Homo sapiens: one gene and its partner. The protein of the gene in region 1 interacts with the protein of each later gene in a pairwise test. Each region holds a gene or a part of one and is shown in the gene's direction. Other genes may lie near its edges.

The links. The genes of interacting proteins can lie anywhere in the genome.
Region 2: the proteins of FAM120A (region 1) and UPF1 interact in binary tests that used the Homo sapiens proteins (3 or more experiments, as listed by UniProt).

What each region holds. Positions count from the first base shown.
Region 1 is NC_000009.12:93,447,607-93,454,684, forward strand, and holds the start of FAM120A (constitutive coactivator of PPAR-gamma-like protein 1), read left to right. Parts: upstream 1-4,078; 5' UTR 4,079-4,309; coding exon 4,310-4,783; coding exon of another isoform or gene 4,784-5,103; exon of another isoform or gene 5,104-5,995; intron 5,996-7,078. Other genes in the region: uncharacterized protein FAM120AOS, read right to left, coding at 5-91, 2,873-2,993, 4,541-5,103. UniProt on the Homo sapiens protein: Component of the oxidative stress-induced survival signaling. May regulate the activation of SRC family protein kinases. May act as a scaffolding protein enabling SRC family protein kinases to phosphorylate and activate PI3-kinase.
Region 2 is NC_000019.10:18,827,036-18,834,972, forward strand, and holds the start of UPF1 (regulator of nonsense transcripts 1), read left to right. Parts: upstream 1-4,923; 5' UTR 4,924-5,174; coding exon 5,175-5,405; intron 5,406-6,638; exon of another isoform or gene 6,639-6,653; coding exon of another isoform or gene 6,654-6,755; intron 6,756-7,937. UniProt on the Homo sapiens protein: RNA-dependent helicase required for nonsense-mediated decay (NMD) of aberrant mRNAs containing premature stop codons and modulates the expression level of normal mRNAs.

The sequences.
Region 1 (7,078 bases):
TTTTTCAAATTGGACTCAAGAATGATCTTAGTGTTGGTGGTTTTGTGGTTTTCTTTGAGACTTTGTTATTGACAGAACAGCTTCTGGAAATCTGAAAAGAAAAAAAAAAAGGTAGTTTATATATTAGTTTGGAATATGAAATGTATTTTGTCATGGTCTCCAGAGTCCGAATATTGATCTCTGTGGAGCTCTCCTACCCTCTGCTACTGCTGATAACTCATAGTACTGGAGAGATAGCAGAGCCTGAAGACCAAAAAACTCAACTGCCGATACACGGCTGCAGTGTGGTCAGTTACTGATCTACCATTTATGAAGCAGGCCTACAGATGTGTGTGTTCTTCTGGGTAATTTAAATTGACAATTAATTAACAGGGCTGGTGCTAGGTAAACATTATAGGTTAGAATCCCTAGTGTGGATTAATTTGCTCTCTTCCATGATCGCAGACTCCCTGCTTAGCTCCAGTCTGCTGGTCTCCCAACATCTGCTAATGATTACATGGGCAGCATTAAGGTCTCTTATTACCTTGTTTGAAAAACTGGAAACTCATCTGTTATTGTTGGTGGTTAGATACCTCACCTAAGTAAAATATTAATTAATGATATTAGGCTGGGCGCGGTAGCTCATGCCTGTAATCCCTGCACTTTGGGAGGCAGAGGCAAGTGGATCACTTGAAGTCAGGAGTTCGAGACTGGCCTGGCCAACATGGTGAAACCCCGTCTCTACTAAAAATACAAAACTTAGCCAGGTGTGATGGTGTGTACCTGTAATCCCAGCTACTCCAGAGGCTGAGGCAGGAGATCACTTGAACCTGGGAGAGGGAGGTTGCAGTGAGCTGAGAACACATCATTGTACTCCAGCCTGGGCAACAGAGCAAGACTCCATCTTGGGGGAGAAAAAATAAATAAAATAAATACAAAATAAAAAAAGAAAAAGTCCCCAACCATTAGTTGTCATATTGTAACCTCCAAGAAGACATAACTTTTTATTAAATTTTAAATACAGATGTTTATTTTTTATTTTTTATTTTTAAGATGGAGTCTCGCTCTGTTGCCCAGGCTAGAATGCAGTGGCGTGATCTCGGCTCACTGCAAGCTCCGCCTCCTGGGTTCACGCCATTCTCCTGCCTCAGCCTCCTGAGTAGCTGGGACTATAGGCGCCTGCCACCACGCCCGGCTAATTTTTTTTTGTATTTTTTTTAGTAGAGACGGAGTTTCACCGTGTTAGCCAGGATGGTCTGGATTTCCTGACCTTGTGATCCGCCCACCTCAGCCTCCCAAAGTGCTGGGATTACAGGCGTGAGCCACTGCGCCCGGCCCAGATGTTTATTTTTACCTCAATATTTAAGCAATTTAACTTCAACCAACCCCTGAATTTGAGTTAAGGATGCAGAGTATATAAGTGTTTGTCAGCTAAACATTTTGCCCACCATCAATAGCTACTCAATAAATAAAGTTTTTTTTTTTTTTTTTTAAAGAACACAAAGCTAAATAGGGCAACTAAGAATTGAGTTTTATGTGTTATGATACAATAATGAATTTTAAACTTTCCAAAAGTACAATAACTGGTCTATGTTCTCGAGTATAAGTCTAGACAAATACAGTTTCTGGAAATAACTACAAAAGCCAACATTTATTGAGCATTTGTTGTGTGGCAGGCACACAGGTTATCTGATTTAATCCTTATAACAACCTGGGAGGTTAAGTACTATTAATATGTTGATTTTACAGATGATAAAATCCAAGGTTCAATAAGGTAAATATTTTTGCAAGGGCACAGACTTATCATAAGATGGATATTGGGGGCCTGACTCCAGAACCTTAGACCTCTACAATATAATAAGGTGAAAATAAATTTATTTCCAGAATTCCAGATACTGGCACTGGCATTTTTTTTTTTTTTTTTTTTTGAGATGGAGCCTCGCTCTGTTGCCAGTCTGGAGTGCAGTGGCGTGATCACTGCAACCTCCACCTCCCAGGTTCAAGCAATTCTCCTGCCTCAGCCTCCCGAGTAGCTGGGACTACAGGTGCGCACCACCACGCTCGGCTAATTTTTGTGTTTTTAGTAGAGATGGGGTTTTACCATGTTGGCTAGGATGGTCTCCATCTCTTGACCTCGTGATCTGCCCGCCTCGGCCTCCCAACGTGCTGGGATTACAGGCGTGAGCCACCACGCCCGGCCGCACTAATGCATTTTTAAAAATTAAAAGCAAGAGTGTTTAAAGAAAAGGTAAATACACGGAATGCAATGCTACAAATGAAAATACGAGTGATTAAAAACTACTACTCCTCACCTTGTGAACCTGCCTTGGGTTATAAAAGCAAATTTGGATATTTCTGGATTTTGCTCGTTATTTAATGGCTAACTGTATTATTTCTTTTATTTATTTATTTATTTTTGAGACGGAATCTCGCTTTTTGCCCAGGCTAGAGAGTGCAGTGGTGCCATCTCCGCTGACTGCAACCTCCGCCTCCCGGGTTCAACCAATTCTCCTGCCTCAGCCTCCCAAGTAGCTGGGATTACAGGCGCACACACCACCAGGCCCGCCTAATTTTTGCATTTTTAGTAGAGACGGGGTTTCACCATGTTGGCCAGGCTGGTCTCGAACTCCTGATCTCAAATGATTCACCCGCCTCGGCCTCCCAAAATGCTGGGATTACAGGCGTGAGCCACCGCACCTGGCCTGTATTATTTTTAGATAACATGTCATCCTGGCTTTGTGACTAATTTTATGCATAGGTGAGTGGCATAACTTGTCAGCCTGCTTTTAAATGTAACTTCCTAAAATACCAGCAGCATTTAATTTATGTACGTATGATACTGGCTTGCATTTGAGGTGGGTATCAGAAAAGAAAGCAGAAAAATCCAACTTGCCTTTTTCACCGGGAGTATGGGGGCTTCTTTGGCCAAACCGTGCGCGTGCAGGCTCCATGTGCTGGGCAGCAGCTGTCCGGCCACAGCCTGTCGGTTGCATCCTGCTCCTCTACAGAGGTTTCTCCAAAAAAAGAACAAATGGAGAGATGAAGGTAAGTAAAAGCGGCACTTTAAAACTTTTAGAGTGCTGGGTTTCTAAATTTATATTCTGAAAGACATTAATCTCTTTTTGAAAATGTTTTATGCAAGCCTAATATACATACAGTATCAACCTCATTTTAGAAGCAGTTACGACAGAGCTTTGGAACAGAATTTACGTAAACGACCTCCTTCCAGAAGATGCTACTAAAGCAACAAGATTCAAATCCCTCTCCCTCAGAAGAGCTGGGAGATCCACTGCAAAGGCGCACGTTTCAGTCTAGCCATTGCGCAGTGGTAACGCAGGCTTTCCCACGCTGCAACAGACCTGTGCTCTCAAGACAGTCTCTTCCGTGACGAGCAGGCGCTTAGGGCTACCTGTACCTTCAGACATTATGGTGTGTTTGGCCATGTCATTTGTCATAGGTGTAAAAACCACAACCGAGAGCCCGAAGCTGCTGGGATGAGCACCTGCCGCGGAACTGCATTCTCGCGCTCCTTCCTGCTCTTTCCAAGAAGCCAGGCGCGGCCGGCCAGCATCCCGCTCTCCCGGACCCCGCAGTCAGTGTGGGCAGCAGGCCCAGAGTGGTGCGAGCCGACGGCGGCGTTAGAAAGGCGGCGTCCCGACGAACAGAGTGACTCGGCCTCGGCTCCCCTTCAAAGCGCCATCTTATCGCTGCTTCCCTCAGGAGCAGGCGAGCTCTTCCCCAGGACCTGCTTCGCGGCTTCCCTTCGCCCGAGAACCACCGGGCGGAGGCGGCGGCCTCTCTGGCCCTGCCGGGAACAGGGCGCAGGGGAGGGGAGCGGCGGCCGACCGGCCTGAGGCGGGCGAACGGCCTCTGGCCTCCAGGCGCTGCCTGCTCCGGCTCAGAAGCCTCCCGGATCCCGTCCCGGCCCAACTCCGGGCCTCCGCCTCCGCCGCCGCCTCCGGGAGCCCCGAGCCGCGTCCCGCCGGCGCCGCCTCTTCCGCCTGCTAGCCGGCGGGCCTGGGCGGCGTCCGCGCCGGGCGGGTCCGCTACGTCAGCGCCGCCCGCCCGCCCCGCCCCGGCCCTCAGCCTCGGCCTCGGCCTCGGCCTCGCAGCGGCGGCAGCGGCGGCGGCGGCAGGTCCCTCCCCAGACATGGCCCTGGGAGGCGGCAGCACATGGCGGCCGCGGCGGCCATGAGCGCGCCCCCGACCCGCCCCAGTCCCCCCTAGAGGCCGCCGCCCCCGCCCGCCAGCCCGCCCGCGCGCCACGGCCCCACCACCCCCGGCCCCGCCGCCCCCCGCCCGCACCCGCGCCCGCGCCCCCGCCGCCGCCATGGGCGTGCAGGGCTTCCAGGACTACATCGAGAAGCACTGCCCGAGCGCCGTGGTGCCGGTGGAGCTGCAGAAGCTGGCCCGGGGCAGCCTGGTGGGCGGCGGGCGGCAGCGGCCCCCGCAGACCCCGCTGCGCCTGCTGGTGGACGCCGACAACTGCCTGCACCGCCTCTACGGCGGCTTCTACACCGACTGGGTCAGCGGCGGCCAGTGGAACCACATGCTTGGCTACCTGGCGGCGCTGGCCAAGGCCTGCTTCGGCGGCAACATCGAGCTCTTCGTCTTCTTCAACGGCGCGCTCGAGAAGGCCCGGCTGCACGAGTGGGTCAAGCGGCAGGGCAACGAGCGCCAGACGGCACAGCAGATCGTCAGCCATGTCCAGAACAAGGGCACCCCGCCGCCAAAGGTCTGGTTCCTGCCGCCCGTCTGCATGGCCCACTGCATCCGCCTGGCGCTCATCCGCTTCCACGTCAAGGTGAGGCCGGGGATCCGGGCGGGCCGGGGACCGGGGCCGCGCCGCACCCCTATCCCCCTTCCCAGGGCGCAGAATGTCGCCCGGCCGTGGCGGCGCTGGGGGCAGCGAGTTCCCCCAGCCCTTGCCCGGGATAGCCTGGCCGGGCCGGGCTGCAAGATGGATGGCCGCGGGTGCAGGCCGCGCGCTGCCCAAGCCCGTCTCCAGCTGTCCCTGTTCGGGGTCCGCGGCCGCGTGGGGACACTTGAGGGCTGGGAGAGAGCCCCGGACCAGAATTCGGAGGCGACAGTGTCATCATCCCCAATATCCTTAGTTTTTCCCATCCTATTTGAGGCGGGCAGGCTATCACTCACCTTCAACTTTGACAAAATACTCCCTTTTCTAATTTAGCCTGTTCTTTCCCAGCAACAGGTTCATCTTGGAAGCAGGCAGGATACAGAGTAATAGAGGGGGTTTCGCCAGAGCCCTTGGGGGCTGCAAATATCAGTGCTGCTGCCGCCGCCCTTGCCAATGTTGTTAGCCCGGTGACAGCGAGACGTGTCTAAGGGCCAGTGCCCTGGCCTCTACTTCAGAACGCAGTGCCCTGTCCGTGTTCCTCTTAGTACAGGGTGTTTAGAGAATCTTTCTATGGCTTTTTGTGTTAGATTTCAAAGACCCGTGCACTTTGACAGGATGGGATTTTGTCAGTTCTGTGACTTCACGTCCGTGTGAAAGAGGTCTTTAAGGCAGTTCGGTTTTGTAGATCCCATGCGAAAGGAGTCGCTCAAAATCAGGGGGCGAACTACGCGGGCGTGAACTCGCAGGATTTATTTTTCGGGTGCACAGTAAGTATTCAGTGACCTTCAGCGGTGCCCTGACGGGTGGGTAATCAGAGCTCTATATCACCGGCCTCCTCTGGCCCTTTGGCAGAGGGCTTCGCAGCTGGCACTGGGCCAGAGGAGAACTTCAGGACCCAGCAGTGACTGTGAAGATAAGCACATCCATGATCCTGGACTTCACGTTCTGATTGCTTGCTTTTTTCATTGGTTTTCTTGAAAACAAATTTTGGGGGCCTTTTTGTTGTCTTAGCTCTTGACACTCGGTCTTCCATCTTGTCATTTGACATTTCCTTGAAACTGCTGGAGCTGAAAGTTTGTGAAATTCTGTCTTCGCGGTTGCCCCCACTGCCCGCGAGGAGATGGTGGTAGTTAAGCCTAAAATGATAGCGGAAGTCCCACCCACGATCCGGTTGCAATTGGTGAGATGGTGTTTAAGTCGTGGGTGGAGGCGGCCGGCAGAGTCCCGATTGGCCCCTGCGCCTGGCAGACACACAGCTGCCATTCCTCAGGGAAGTTCGGGTGAGAGGAAGTGCCTGCCTTTTAATTTCTGAATCGGAGCCTGGGGCGCTCAGGGAAGTAAGGTGCTGCCATTTGTCTGAAGCGATCCATCTCCCTAATAGAGCGTAAAAGTGTTCATAGTTTAGTCTTGTTCAGAGATGGAAAAGACTACTTAAAAGACAGGATGAGCTGCACTGACTTGCCTTTGGTAACCGCACAGCTCTCTACTTAACTAGTCAAGCGACTTTCAAGGGAACACTGTGAATATTACTTAGGATTAGAATCAGTATGTATGCATATGGTCACTGTATCTTTAAAGAACTGTTGAGTTCTTTTTAATTCTACAGTTTCTTTATCTTTGCACCCCTTTGAATGCCTCGCACACCTAGTAGGTGCTCAGAATTCAGACCAATGTGTCAGTGTTAGGAAACTAGATTTAAGCTCCATTTAAGATCGTCTTTTTCACTTAGGTTTCTGGACACGGGATAATGGGATAATTTTGTCTGTATTTTGCTTTTGCTAAGCTTTTAATTATTGACCTAGGGTCATATTATAGTGCGAATTGCACAAAATGAATATTGTAATAACTCAATTACTTGGTGGTCTCTTAGCTGGCAACCTTACCTTTTTGAAAAGTGCCTAAGAGATTTAGCTACTAGAAATTTCTCAGCAACCAAGCAAGATGTCAGGAAGTTTGGGTACAGTGATGTGGGGGGTTGGCGGGTGTAGGGGGGTGCTTTTGCTTTCCTCACTGAAGAATCCTTTAAGCTCTCTCACTCATGGACTGGCCTCTTTTCATATGTAATTCTAACAAGCTTGGTTATCTATTTTCTAAACTCAGCTTGAGAAGAGGATGAAGAGGAGAGTCTGCCAGAGGCAGGAGCACCATTAATAGCAAGAAGTGACAAGAGAGATTTAAAAAGCTATAAAAAGCAAACATAATTCTGGGGCTATTTTAAGAAAAGGAAAACAACCCTATGTA
Region 2 (7,937 bases), on another chromosome or scaffold:
GGGAGGTCGAGGTTGCAGTAGGCAGAGATTGCAACATTGTGCTCCAGCACCCACAATAGAGTGAGACCCTGTCTGTACAAAAAAAAAAAACAACACTTTTTTTTTGAGACAGGGTCTCACTCTATTGCCCAGGCTAGTCTCAAACTCCTTTACTCAAACACTCCTCCTCCTACCTTGGCCTCCCAAGCTGCTGGGATTATAGGCGTGATCCACAGTGACCAGCCTTGATTTCTTTTTAAATCCATTCTGACACACTCTGCATTTTAGGTAGAGTTTAATCCATTTACATTTAATGTAATTGCTGATGAGCACTTATTTCTGCCATTTTCTGATGTTTCTTTTTCTTTTTTTTGAGACGGAGTCTCACTCTGTCACCCAGGCTGGAGTGCAGTGGCGTGATCTCGGCTCACTGCAACCTCTGCCTCCCGGGTTCAAGTGATTCTCGTGCCTCAGCCTCCCGAGTAGCCAGGATTACGGGTGTGTGCTACCATGCCTGGCTAATTTTTGTATTTTTCATAGAGATGGGGTTTCACCACGTTGGCTAGGTTAGTCTCAAACTCCTGACCTCAAGGGATCCACCTGCCCACCTGCCTCAGCCTCTCAAAGTGCTGGGATTACAGGTGTGAGGCACCGCACCTGGCCTCCTATTTTTCTATACATCTTATGTCTTTTTTGTTCAATTCCTCCACTACTGACTTCTTTTTTGTTAAATAGATGTGGTTTTTTTTTTTTTTTGGTCTTTTTCTTTAAATAGATGTATTCTAATGTACCATCCCAATGTCACTTTGCAATTGTGAGTGTATACAGGAAATAAGAAGAGATCTTTAGAAATGGAGTAGGTGGGTCAAAGTGGGAGAGGGGCAATTAAAACTCTGAAAGGTGGGCTGGGTGTGGTGGCTCACGCCTGTAATCCCAGCACTTTGGGAGGCTGAGGAGGGAGGATCGCTTGAGCTTAGGAGACTGAGACCAGCCTGAGCAACATAGTAAGACACTGTCTCTACAAATAAACAATTTAAAAGATAGCTGTGTGTGGTGGTGTGTGCCTGTAGTCCCTGCTACTCATGAGGCTGAGGTGGGAGGATCCCTTGAGCCCAGAAGGTTGAGACTGCAGTGAGCTGGGTCACACCACTGCACCCCAGTCTGGGTGACAGAGCAAGACCTTGTCTAAAAATAAATTTTAAAAACTCTGATAGGTGTTACTAAATTGATCTGAAATTTGTCTACAAATTCCACTGGATGTGTTCCAAAGAGAGCTTTGCATGATATTAAAATTATCTGTTGGTCTGTCAGTATTCCCCCTTAAACTGTGCCTTCTTGGAGAGGGAGACCTACTTTTATTCATTGTTTATATTCCTACAGTTTAGTGCATGCTAGGAGCCCCCCTGAAATGTTATTTTTATTTTCTGTAGAGATGGGGGTTTTGCTGTTTCCTAGGCTGGTCTTGTACTCCTGACCTCAAGTAATCGTCCCACCTCAATCTTCCAAAGAGCTGTGATTATAGGTATGAGCCACTATGTCTTGTCCCTGAAAAAGAGTGAAGAAGGCTGTGGCTCACACCTGTAATCCTAGCACTTTGGGAGGCAGAGGCAGGTGGATCACCCGAGGTCAGGAGTTCGAGACCAGCCTGGCCAACATGGTGAAACCCCATTTCTCCTAAAAATACAAAAAAATTAGCCGGGCATGGTGGCAGGTGCCTGTAATCCCAGCTACTTGGGAGGCTGAGACAGGAAAATTGCTTGAACCCAGGAGGTGGAGGTTGCAGTGAGCCAAGATTGTGCCATTGTACTCCAGCCTGGGCGACTGAGTGTAACTCCGTCTCAGGGAAAAAAAAAAAAATGTGAAGAAGGAGAACAGAACCTCTGTCCCTGTGATGATAAACAGGCAAATTGGAAATAAGGAACCACGGCAAACTGGGAACTTTTAGTTCAGCTGTGCAAGCTAGGAGCTCTTTCAGCTGACTTATTTAAAGAGCAGCAGAATCTTGGGACAGAAAGGGAAATGAGGGTGTTTTCCAAGATACTTTACCAGAGAGGAAGCGAACGCCTGGGGTTAGGAAATTAAGGCCCATAAACCAGTAGCTTACCTTGGATTTAAAGTGTCAGAAAACTTTTTATTGAGCACCTACTGTATGAGGCATCATTCTCTCCGTGGGGAAGATCATAATGAACAAGGCCAACACCCTGTCCTTATGGAACTATGCATTAAGAGAGTGACTGGTAGCTCATTTATTCCTCTCATATATATATATATATATATATACACACAGAGAGAGAGAGATAGAGTGTATATATATATACACACACACACTCCCTATCTATATATAATAGAGTGACTAGTAGCTCATTTATTCTTATATATACAGTGTGTATATATATGTATATACACGCACTGTCTATCTCTGTCTCTATATATAATAGAGTGACTAGTAGCTCACTTATTCTTATATATACAGTGTGTATATATATGTATATACGCGCACTCTCTCTATATATATAATAAAGTGACTAGTAGCTCATTTATTCCTCTCATATATACAGTGAGATATATAATATACATCATATATATATATACATATATATATATGTATATATATATATATATATATATATATATATATATATATATATACACTTTTTTTTTGAGACGGAGTCTCGCTCTGTCACCCAGGCTGGAGTGCAGTGGTGCAATGTTGGCTCACTGCAGCCTCCGCCTCCTGGGTTCAAGCAGTTCTCCTGCCTCAGCCTCCCAAGTAGCTAGGATTACAGGCACGCACCATACCCGGCTAATTTTTGTATTTTTAGTAGAGACGGGGTTTCACCACGTTGGCCAGGCTGGTCTCGAACTCCTGACCTTGGGTGATCCACCTGCCTCTGCCTCCCAAAGTGCTGGGATTACAGGTGTGAGCCACAGCCTTCTTCACTCTTTTTCAGGGACAAGACATAGTGGCTCATACCTATAATCACAGCTCTTTGGAAGATTGAGGTGGGACGATTACTTGAGGTCAGGAGTACAAGACCAGCCTAGGAAACAGCAAAACCCCCATCTCTACAAAAAATAAAAAATAAAAATAACATTTCGGGGGGGGCTCCTAGCATGCACTAAACTGTAGGAATATAAACAATGAATAAAAGTAGGTCTCCCTCTCCAAGAAGGCACAGTTTAAGGGGGAATACTGACAGACCAACAGATAATTTTAATATCATGCAAAGCTCTCTTTGGAACACATCCAGTGGAATTTGTAGACAAATTTCAGATCAATTTAGTAACACCTATCAGAGTTTTTAAAATTTATTTTTATACAAGGTCTTGCTCTTTTGGCCTCCGAAAGTGCTGGGATTACAGGCGTGACACACCGCACCGGGCTCCATATATATCAGCAGCAACCATATATCACATGAGAGTATGAGAGGAATAAATGAGCTACTAGTCACTCTATTTATATTAACATAAATAAATATATATTAATATACACACACACACATAGGATCTCTGTCACCCAGGCTGGAGTGCAGTGGCACAATCATAGCTCACCGCAGCCTCAAACTCCTGAGCTCAAGTGATTCTCTTGCCTCTACCTCCTAAAGTGCTGGGATTTCAGGAAAGAGCCACCTTGCCCAGGCTTCCTATGCCACCTTAATGGCAACAGAAACCCTAGGCTCAGAGAGGTTAAGTCACTTGTATAATTTCACACAGCTGGTAAGTGGTCAGGTCTAGAGTCCACCACAGACCATGTGCTTCCAGTTGTTTTGCTGTATACGTCCACTAAATAATAATCATAGCAAAAATAGTAATGGTATAATAACAGTGGCAGAGGCATCAGGAACAGCAGCAACCATCATTTCCAAGTGCCAGGCCCAGTACGTAAGACTATCCCCATTCATTTATTTTTACTTATTTTTGAGACAGGGTCTCGCTCTGTCACCCAGGCTGGAGTGCAGTGGTGCAATCTCGGCTTACTGCAGCCTCAACTTCCCAGGGTCAAGCGATCCTCCCACCTCAGCCTCCCTAGTAGCTGGGACTACAGGTGCGAACCACCACGCTTAGCTAATTTTTTTTTTTTTTTTTGAGACAGAGTCTCACTCTGTTGCCCAGGCTGGTGTGCAGTGGCACAATCTTGGCTCACTGCAACCTCCGCCTCCTGGGTTCAAGCGATTCTCCTGCCTCAGCCTCCTGAGTAGCTGGGACTACAGGCTCGTGCCACCACGCCTGGCTAATTTTTTGTATTTTTAGTGGAGACGGGGTTTCACCATGTTAGCCAGGATGGTCTCGATCTCCTGACGTCATGATCCACCCGCCTCGGCCTCCCAAAGTGCTGGGATTACAGGCGTGAGCCACCGCGCTCGGCCTAATTTTTATATTTTTTGTAGAGATGGAGTCTCACTCTGTCTCCCAGGCTGGTCTCGAACTCCTGAGTTCAAGCAGTTCTCCCGCCTCAGCCTCTGAGTGTTGGGATTACAGGTGTGACCACCGCGCCGAGCCCCACTCCCTTTTTAAACCAATGCACAGGGAGCATCTACTATGTGCGAGGCACCCTCCATTTTACAGATGGGGAAACTGAGTTCCAAGCAGCTTTTGCCAGGAGTGGGAGCGCACCGTCCCTGCCCAGTCTCTCCAGTTGGGCGTTCCGAGACCACCTATGTAGGGTATTCGGCTAGCGCTCAATTAAACCGAAACACCGTCGCAGCGACCACAGGTGCAGACCACCAAGTCCACACCGCCAGCCGCCCGGGCGTCCCCAATTAGCAGTTGGGGCGGGACCAAGTCCTCGAGCTGCCGCCGCAGCGGCGGTTGAAAGCCCCACCCCCTGCGCGTGCGCGGTGCGCGTCCCGTCTTCCTGCTGGGCACCAGGCGCCCGCGAAGAGCGCGCGCGCTTCCGCCGGCGTCGGGCTCGCGCACGCGCACGGCGACGGCGGCGGTGGCGGCAGTTCCTGCTCTAGGCTGCGAGCGGCTGGCGGCTTCGAGGGGAGCTGAGGCGCGGAGGGGCTCGGCGGCAGCGGCGGCGGCTCGGCACTGTTACCTCTCGGTCCGGCTGGCGCCGGGGCGCGCGGTTTGGTCCTTTCCGGGCGCGCGGGGGCGACAGCGGCAGCGACCCGAGGCCTGCGGCCTAGGCCTCAGCGCGGCGGCGGGCTCGAGTGCAGCGCGGAACCGGCCCGAGGGCCCTACCCGGAGGCACCATGAGCGTGGAGGCGTACGGGCCCAGCTCGCAGACTCTCACTTTCCTGGACACGGAGGAGGCCGAGCTGCTTGGCGCCGACACACAGGGCTCCGAGTTCGAGTTCACCGACTTTACTCTTCCTAGCCAGACGCAGACGCCCCCCGGCGGCCCCGGCGGCCCGGGCGGTGGCGGCGCGGGAGGCCCGGGCGGCGCGGGCGCGGGCGCTGCGGCGGGACAGCTCGACGCGCAGGTGAGCGGCACATGGCGGTGCCGGAAGCCCGGGCCCGGCCTCGGCGCCTGAGACCTGCCCCGAACTCGCCTCGGGCCCGGCCTGTGTTTGGCCGGAGTCCCCCATCGCGGCCGGGCCTGGGGCGATCTGCCCCGGGTCCCCTACTCTGGCTCGGCCTGAGCTTACCTGCCCCAGGTCCTGCAATCTGCCCGGGCCTGGCCTGATCTGCCCCGGGTCCCCCGCTCCGGCCGCGACCTGGCTGAGTTCCTTCGGCCCCCAACTCCTGGGCCGGGCAGACTTGCCTCGAGTCCTCCACTTCGTTCGGGACCGAGCTAACCTGACCCTGTTCCTTTACGCCAGCTGGGTTTGCTCCCCCTCCTGGGCCCGGGCTGACCTGCCTTGTGTCCCACAATCAGTCTGGCCTGGAGTAACCTGCCCCCTGACTTATCTGAGTTCTTCCATTCCATCCGGGCTAGGGTGACCTGCCCTGGTCCCTCTTTCGCAGGTCTCGGTATTCTGCCTCGAGTTCTCCTACGACCTGGGCCGGGTCTTGCTCAGGCCGGAGCTTGAGTGACTTCCCTCAGTCCCTTTCCGGGAGTATCCAGGGTGACCTGCCCTAATCCTGTCTCTGGCCTGGTCCGGGGGTCCTGCCCGGTCTCCCCATTGGTGGGTCTGGCCGCCTGTCCCACCTCCCATCTGTGGTCGCAGCCATCTGGGCACCCCACCTTTCACAGTCACGGAGCGTAGGTTCGACTTTCCCCATGCATAGGGGCGCTGGCCAGCGGAAGGTTGAGGCAGAGAAGAATTTTTGCCTCCCATGGAGGAGCACATATTGGCTGGCTATTAAGATCATTCAGGAAGCAGGTTGTATTTTGTTTTTTCTTGCATCGCCTGTTGCTGAAACCGACCTGTTACATAACTTCACAACTCTTGCCTTGGAAAAGTTGGGTTTGAGTTTTGTTCTTCCAATAAGACAGCAATAATGGCTTTACATAAACGAGTCTGCCACGTTGGAAACTTATTTTTAATGATGTGGATGTTTAGAGAAGGTTACTTAGGTATTTTAAATGGGGGCTTGGGTTGGGAGAAGTATCGGGCATGCATTTCCTGGTCCTGGGCGCTGCTTGCCTGGGGTGGGAGAGGGGCTGGGGGGGTGGCGCGTGTTGCACCGGGGTCCTGGGGAATGTCCTCATCACCCTCTGGATTTCAGGTTGCTTTCACCTTAGGCTTGCTTTGTGCCTGACCTCTCGCTCAGGTTTGTTTTCCTGAATGCTCCGACAGGAAGAAGCTCCGAGGCTTACCTTGGCACAGGTGTCCCTTGGCATATGCTGGTGTTTCAGAACTGGGGGAACCACTCCTTGCTCATCCAGAGTGAGCTCAGACCCTGTCCTTGCATGGGGGGCTTACGTGGTAGTCGATTGAGTCACTCTCGTGGGTAGACCACCCACTTGGGCTTTCTTTTAGCCCCTAATGGAAGCAAAAAACATTTGACTCATTCTAACCCCATATTCCTTAAAATAGAAGGTGGGGTGTGAGGAGAACAGGTGTGCACGTATGGGTGTTTTTTTCAGTTTTGTTTACATTTTGCGAAGGGAGGGAGGGAGAGAGGAGAGTTCTCCTGAAGAAGGGAGTCTGAGCTGCGGAGGCCCCACCTCCTTGTAGTTTTCATGCCCTGTAGACCTTTCTGCTTCCGCAGCTGTGAAATGGGGGTGGCAGTTAGATTTTTATTCCTTTTAAACATAAAGGAAACCTAGATCCATGTGTGAGTCGACTGTATACGCTGTCTGTAATCTGACGTCCAGCCTGTCGGGGAGACTCGGTAAAGATCTCTGTGGAGCAGTGAGCCATGAGCGTGACAGCGCGGATCGGGGGGTTGGCTGGGTGTGAAAGGTAATCATTTTCTTGTGAATCCTTTTAACTGTAGCGAGCATAAAACAGCAAACCTGGGGCAGCCTTTAGTTCTGCTTTTGTTTCTGGCATTCCGTTTGGGATTAATTGTGGGGCATGTCCTTCTCTTTCAGTTGAAACAATTGATTTTTTTTCCTGCACCTGAACACACTGGGCTGTACAAAAGGAGAGCATTAAAACGCTCCCCTGGAGGTAAACATTGCAGTTGAGCTCACTAGAATTCTGACGACATCAGAGGGTTTGTCCTGTGCTACTTGTAATTGACCCAGATGCCCCACCCACCTGTTACCTGTAATTTGGATTTGTTTGTGGGGAATGGGAGTGGTACCCCTTTGCATCACAAGGGGAAGAACGGAATTTGGGGGCAAGGAAGTCTATGAATATCATTCAAGGGAAAGCGGAAGAAAGTTATCTCTTGTGTGAATTGAAGGCAGTGTCTGCTAAGATATTTGGGAAGACTTTCCCTGTTTGTCCTCAGGAGTTGGCCGTGTAACCAGCTGTTAAGTTGGGGGCTCCTGGAAACTCTCATTCTGCTTTTTTAATTTTTATTTTACTGGGGAAGTGGCTATCAGCTGTCAAGTGCCCTGCAGTCACTTTTGCTTAGCGGCTTTATTGAAATAGAATTCACTTGCCACAACATACAAT